Linked DNA regions of Homo sapiens. The protein of the gene in region 1 purifies or fractionates together with the protein of each later gene. This does not show direct contact. Each region holds a gene or a part of one and is shown in the gene's direction. Other genes may lie near its edges.

Region 1 (3,500 bases):
GGACTCACAGTGCTTAACCTTATAGGGAGAATTCGAATTAAATAATTGAATTAAATAGAATGTTTGTAAAGTGCATAATTTAGTGCCTTGTGTCTAGTACATGCTTAATAGTAACTGCTTGCTAGCAATAGTAATATAATTGTTGGTTAGTCTCATCAGCTGACATCTCAGAGAAGGGCCATTTTAGGATTGGTCTTTTCTGAAGGAAACCAGAACTCTCCAAGTGATTGAAAAGTTTGAGAAGATCAAGGGACTATCCCCTTCCCATCCTTATTGTCCCATAAATTCCTAAGGGCCAGGGTTGAAGGGCAGGGGCTGAACTGTGTTGTTTTGGGGCCTGCACACCTTTGGGTAATGCGTATGGACAGCTGCTTCACTCCTGTCACTTAACTAATTTGGCAAATCACTAAATTTTCCTTTTGAACTGTATTACATGATTTTGTATCAAAAATCTCATTCTATAAAATAAAACATTGGAATGACATTTCAGTGGTTTTGTGGGGGCACTCATGCAAATTAGAGATGATATACTACAGAAAACAAAGTTTAAAAATCTTAAATATTGTCACTTAAGATTAAAAGATCAAAATGAGTTGAAAATAAAACAGAACTGCAGAAAATGAAATCAGTAACCATTTTGTTTTCTGTAGTGAAAGACTTAAAGGAATGGGCTACTGAGTGGGACAAATGGGCTAGTTCTCTATTTCCTAGCAAATTGCCCCAAAACTTAGTGCCTTAAAACAAACATTAATTATCTTTGAGTTTCTTTGGGTCAGGAATTGGGCCTGCCTTAGCTCTGGGTGCCTCTGCCTCAAGGTGTCTCATGAGGGGCTGCAGTCAGGGTTCTGTGGGCTAGTTCTAACCAATGGGCTAGTTCTCTATTTCCTAGCAAATTGCCCAAAACTTAGTGCCTTAAAACAAACATTTATTATCTTTGAGTTTCTGTGGGTCAGGAATTGGGCCTGCCTTAGCTCTGGGTGCCTCTGCCTCAAGGTCTGTCATGAGGGGCTGTAGGTATGGAGCTGTGGTCTCATCTGAAGGCTCAGCTAGGGCAGGATCCTTATTTACACTCACATTTGTAGTTGTTGGCAGGATTCAGGTCTTCACGGGCTGTTAGCCTGAGAGCCTGAGTCCCTCACTGGCTGTAGGTCAGAAGCCACTCTCAGTTTCTTGCCCCAGCAGTCACTCCCAGGGCAAATTACCACATGGGCAGCTGGCTACCATCCCAGTGAGCAAGCTAGAGAGAGGAAGGCAGGGTGTACACAGCCTTTGTCGCCTAACCTCAGAGGTGACTTAGTATCACTTGCCACATTCTTTTGGTTAGAAACAAGTCACCCACAGAGGAGGGGATTTCACAAGAGCATGAGTATCAGGAGGTGAGGGTCACTGGGGCCACTTTAGAGGCTGCCTGCCTGAATCTGTCCTTTGCCCCATAAGGAGTCATGTCCCTCCCACATGCAAAATGCACTGGCCCTCTCCCAAGCTCTCCAAACATCTCATCCCTTTACAGCATCAGCCCAAAGTCCAGATTTGTCATCTAAATCAGGTCCAGATGGGAATGAGGCTTTGGGCGACACATCTGTATAATTTATTGCTGCATATCCAGTCACCCCGACATTTAGCAGCTTAAAACACTCTCATCTCACAGGAGGGAGGGATCACTGGGTGCTGTCTCAGCAGCTGCCTCCATAGCTGTCCAGGTTCACGTCCTTCCACATACTAGCTGTGTGCCCTTGGGCTGGTCATTTCCCTTCTGTGCCTCACTTTCTCATCTATAAATGGGGCCAATAATATTACTTATCTACTAGGGAGAAGTAATGATTAAATGACATAATTTCTCAAGTAATTGGTGTTGTCCCTGGCACAGAGTAAGTACTGAATAAATGATAACCATTTATAATTATTTGAATTATTTTTCTTAAGAAAAAACTTGAGAAGCTTTCTGAGAATGTAGATCGAAAAGGATAATGAGGGAGAAAAAATGATAGGCCTAAGATACAAGAGGCAGGAATCCAACCTAAAACACTCTAGTGGTTCTTCAAGTTGTCCAAGGACATCAGAAACAATCATTAAAGTTTAAGAAACAAAAACTACTAAACCAAAAGTATTTGTGCCTGCTGATTAAAGTATTCCGTGCGATACAAGCAGTGTTAGAATGTCAGGATGCAGGAGGGGTATGGAGGGGCATGTTGGGCATGTTGAGGTGAGGCCTCATGGGAGGTAACTGAACCCCGTGGGAAATGACTGGCTCCACCCCCATTGTCAGTCACCTCACATTAGAGATTGCAGACCCATTCAGTTTAGGAAACTGCAGAGGGAACCTATGACCACACTGTCTGCAGTTGTCCACACAGCTCAGGGATTCAGACCCAGCATGAACCAGCTTTTGGCCCACATGGGACACTCTTCTGGCCTGTGCTGTGACCAACATGAGAGAGAGCAGCTTGCTTCTTCTCAGCCCCATCTCCCAGTCTGTACCAGGCTGGGCTACAGGATGTCTGAGGGCTCTTTATCCCATGGATGTCTGATTCAGGATCAGGACCTTACTTACCATTTGTGCCCAGAGCACTTGGCATGGATGGGGTTAGGCAAATGCAGTTGAGTTACACTTGTGTTGAAGTGGAGTCCCAGTTGTAAATGTGATGTGTCTGCCCTCTCTGCCCAGCCTCCAGCCCTAACCTGTCTTCCTCCCTCTCTCTCATTCCCATGTCAGGCCAAGTGCAGGAACATGGAGCATGCACTGCGGGAGAAGGCCAAGGCCTTCTGGGCCATGCGGCGCTCCTATGAGGCCATCGCCAAGCACAATCAGGTGAGCGAACGATGGGGCCAAGTGGGAAGATTGGGTCCACTCAGGGCAGTCTGGGGAGGAGTGAAGATGTGTCAGCCGTGGCTTTGGCTCACATAACCCGCTGGGTAGAGGTCGGCTGCCTTACCTCTGATGGTCCTGTGCAGCCACGTCCTGGATGCTGACTGTGGCTTCTCTGCCTTGGCCCCTCTAAAGACCCAGGCGTGGTCATGCCAGCAGCCACAGGAGTGACTTAAAAAGCTACCAACACCATCTGCACTATGGCACATGCATCATATCACTGCCACCTGTGTGTTCAATGATGACCTGGGACTCATGTACTTTCTTGTTTTCTTTCAGTTCCCACATCCACTCCATCAGCAATCCTATTCCCCTATCTCCAAAGTATGTTATTTCTGTAAAACCCTCCACCTTTTGGTCCAGGTCATCATCATCTCTCACTGGGCCTCCTGCCTAGGGCCTCATGCTTTCATTCTTGTGCATTCTCCTTTCCATGGACTGGGGTGATCGTTTAGAAAAAAACACCAGCCGTGCCCCTCCTCTGCTTAAAACTGCCAGTGGCTTCCAGTCACCCTCAGTACCACCCAGATTCCTTACCATGGCCTCCAAGGCCATCTCCTGACCCTGCCTATCCTCAACCTCATTTACTTCTCTGCCTCACCTTCTTTCTGTCCCTTAAGCAAACTAAGTCTTC
Region 2 (3,500 bases), on another chromosome or scaffold:
TGGTAACCTCAGTTTGAAGTAGATCTGTACCAAAATGAAACAGCCTGTCAGAGTCCTTTGGATTATCAGTACCGTCAGGAGATCCTGAAGCTGGAGAATTCGGGTGGCAAGAAAAACCGACGAATCTTTACCTACACTGACTCTGATAGATACACCAATTTGGAGGAGGTATTGTTCTTTCTAGGGTCTCATAGCTTCCATCTTTGCTTCCTCTAGCTTTTTTGCCTCACTGAGTTCTGTGTGTTATGTCAGAGCCTAGTAAGGGGAGACAAGTAGCCTGTCTAGGAACTGCTGTGAGCTGCTGCTGCTGGCAGCCAGCCTGGAATAGAATGGGCACAGTCTACAGGTGGTGAGGCTGCTGCTCCCTTCTCTGCCTGCTAGAGGGCCTGGGGGAGCTGCCAGTATCTCTGATTATATGCTTGCAGAGTGCATACTGGGAGAAGTAACCACTGGGCTTGACTTCCTCCATGCATCATGAAAAAAGACAGGTAGTGGAGTCTGGAACAATATAGATAAAATTCATCAGGGGATTCAGCCCAAACTCTGAGTATATGGGTTTGAAGAGGAATTCAGTATAGCTATGGAAAATGGCTTATGTCCTCAATTTGCCTATGACAAAAATACCCTTGTGACCTTGTTTTACATTTTCTTCAGTCACTGCATTTCAGTTGCTTCTGTCTTCTCAGTAAGATTTTAAGCTCCTCGAGGGTAGAGCCTATTTTTTTTATTTTTGTCTATGACTCTGTAGGTCTCTGCAAGGAACAGGTATTCAATAAATGTTTTTGAAAGATTGACGTGCTTTCATTATTAGAGCTGTGGATTGATAACATTAGCTGGGCATGGTGGCATGTACCTGTAGTCCCGGCTACGTGGGAAGCTGAGGCGGGAGGATCACTTGAGCCAAGGAGTTCAAGGTTGCAGTGAGCTATGATAGCACCACTGCACTGCAGCCTGGGTGAGACCCTGTCTCTTAAAAAAATATATAAATTAAATAAAATTTGGGTTGTCTGTTTTGGAAAAGCAAATGAAAATGCAGTTAGTGCTCAGTTACCATGTGAGGATTTCCCACAAAATGCTTGTATCCCATTTGGCATTTTCTAACCACCTTGTTAACTTCAACATCTACCAAGCACACTAACCCAACTTTTTGTTGGTTTGTGCTCAGAGAATGCAGACTGATTTTAATATTAACATAAATAACTCCTTTTTAAAATCCAAAGGCAAACCATGATGTGGTAGAAATCTTCTTTGGGTTGTTTGGCTACTGCTCCCTCCGTTAGCATGTATAATTGTGAGGTGGCGGAACCTGTGGGGTTCAGGTCCTGGATGAGGTTTCAGGAGGAAGACTTCCCTTCAGGTACTTGGCTCCATGTGGCCCTGACCAGATGGCGTACACAGGGCTGCTTGCTTTTCCCAGCACTGTCAGAGAATGACCACTGCAGCCAGCGAGGTGCCTTCATTCTTGGTCGAGCGAATGGCAAATGTCAGGCGTCGCCGGCAGGACAGGCGAGGGATGTGAGTGCGGGCATGGGATGGGGGACAAGCTTTTACTTTTTATTTCCTAAAGTTGGGTAGTTTTGCATTTTTATCAGTGGTTATATATAGTATTCAAGTATTACTTTGTAATTAATTTAAAAAATAAATATAAAAATATAAAATATCTTCCTCACTCTTCATGTGGACATTTTTCCAAAGTGCCTCAGAGAGAGGGAAGGGATGTCATTTCTGTTTGTCAAATATTTTGGCTCTTAAAAAACAAAACAAAACAGTATGTCCACTAGCTCAAACTTCCCATTCTGAAGTGGCTCTCCACTGGGGTGCTCCATTGGGGTGTGCCAGGGAAGTGACCTTTCTGTGGTGTCTCCCAGGGAGGGCGGCATCCTCAAGTCACGCATCGTCACCTGGGAGCCCTCAGAAGAGTTTGTCAGGAACAACCACGTCATTAACACCCCTCTTCAGACAATGCACATCATGGCAGACCTGGGGCCCTATAAAAAGTGAGTGGCGCTTCTCACTGCCAGCTTAGAGCCTCATCCTTTTCTCCTCTCACCAGCTCTCCCCTTCCTGTTATTATCATCCTAGGTTATAGGGGAGGGAGGGACTTTTTCTTCCTTCTCTTCTTAGTTATGAGTGAAGCTTCTCACTGCCAACTCAGATCCTCATCTTCTTCTCCTCTCACCAGCTATCCCCTTCCTGTTATCATCCTGGGTTATAGGAGAGGAAGGGACTTTTTCTTCCTTTTTTTTCTTAGTTGTACTTGGAAGAAAGTTTTACCATGACAGCTCTCCCTATAGCCTCTGTTCTCTCCCCTGCAGTGGGCTCAGTATCTCTTCTTGTTTCCCTGAAGGACCATTGACCTCAACCTTGGTGTTTTCCTGATTTCTAGGCTTGGCTATAAGAAGTATGAACATGTCCTGTGTACTCTGAAGGTGGATAGCAATGGTGTGATCACAGTAAAGCCTGACTTCACGGGCCTCAAAGGACCCTACAGGTGAGGAGAGGAAGAAAGGGGTAGTGGAGACTGGCATTCCTTCCCTTGGTTGCACTTTTTGTCCCTAGTCAACTAGACTGTCAGAAAGTCCTTCATCTGTTCTAACTTTTACATTCCCAGGCAATGGTTCGTATTCTGTTCCAAGTCATAGGGCCTTAGAAAACCAGGGACTCCTTTCTCAGAAAATGTGCAACTGCACCAATTTGAAAGGGATCACTTCAGTGGTACAGTTAAATGACAGTGATTCTCTGTGCTGCTGAATGTAGGACCTGACCAGAACAGAGTGGGGTGAACTCAGCCAGGCTTTTCCTGTGGGCTGACTGTTCCTCATCTCTGTATCTTGGAAATGACAGAAATGTAAATTAGAAATTATCTGGCCCAACCTGTCCATTTTTCAGGTGAGAGAACTGGGTGGCAGGAATGTTGTGCCTTACAGTTTGACTGTAACTTCAAGCCAGAAATGGGCCCAGAACCTATACTTTCTGAGTCTAGTCTGGTGCCCTCTCTGCTTTACCCTTTTGTTTCTCTCTCCTGGTCGTCAATACAGCCACTTTTATCATCATATACTTTAGTGAGGTGTATGGCCCCTGATCGCTCATCCCTGGGCTGGGAGCTATCCCAGGGCCCATCTCTCATTATTAGAGTTGCTCCTTTCTGTGGTTTTGACCTTACAGGATTGAGACGGAGGGGGAGAAGCAGGAGCTGTGGAAATATACGATCGACAATGTTTCCCCCCACGCACAGCCGGAGGAGGAGGAGCGGGAACGGCGAGTGTTCAAGGATGTAAGCGCAAGTTCATTCCAAGTATCCAAGGGATGAGCCTCAGTGCCTGGAGCTGAGACCATTTCTGAACTTGATGTCAGCAGTTGCTCGGGAAAAGCCTTGCCCTTCATGGCCCCTTCTGACTTAGGCAGCATTGCTGACATATCAGACAGAAGTTTTTGATCATATTATAATAATAACAATAACCATTTATTTGAGCATTTACCATGTTCTGTGCTAGGTACTT

Evidence for each region. Proteins that work in one complex are often made in the same cells at the same time.
Region 2: the proteins of TRIM35 (region 1) and MKS1 purify together in Homo sapiens (affinity purification with mass spectrometry; 2 studies listed by BioGRID and IntAct, with this or other methods). This does not show direct contact.

Annotation. Positions count from the first base shown.
Region 1 is NC_000008.11:27,297,773-27,301,272, reverse strand, and holds part of TRIM35 (E3 ubiquitin-protein ligase TRIM35), read left to right. Parts: intron 1-2,713; coding exon 2,714-2,809; intron 2,810-3,500. UniProt on the Homo sapiens protein: E3 ubiquitin-protein ligase that participates in multiple biological processes including cell death, glucose metabolism, and in particular, the innate immune response.
Region 2 is NC_000017.11:58,212,756-58,216,255, reverse strand, and holds part of MKS1 (tectonic-like complex member MKS1), read left to right. Parts: intron 1-12; coding exon 13-168; intron 169-1,357; exon of another isoform or gene 1,358-1,417; coding exon 1,418-1,515; intron 1,516-1,868; coding exon 1,869-1,997; intron 1,998-2,386; coding exon 2,387-2,491; intron 2,492-3,165; coding exon 3,166-3,274; intron 3,275-3,500. UniProt on the Homo sapiens protein: Component of the tectonic-like complex, a complex localized at the transition zone of primary cilia and acting as a barrier that prevents diffusion of transmembrane proteins between the cilia and plasma membranes.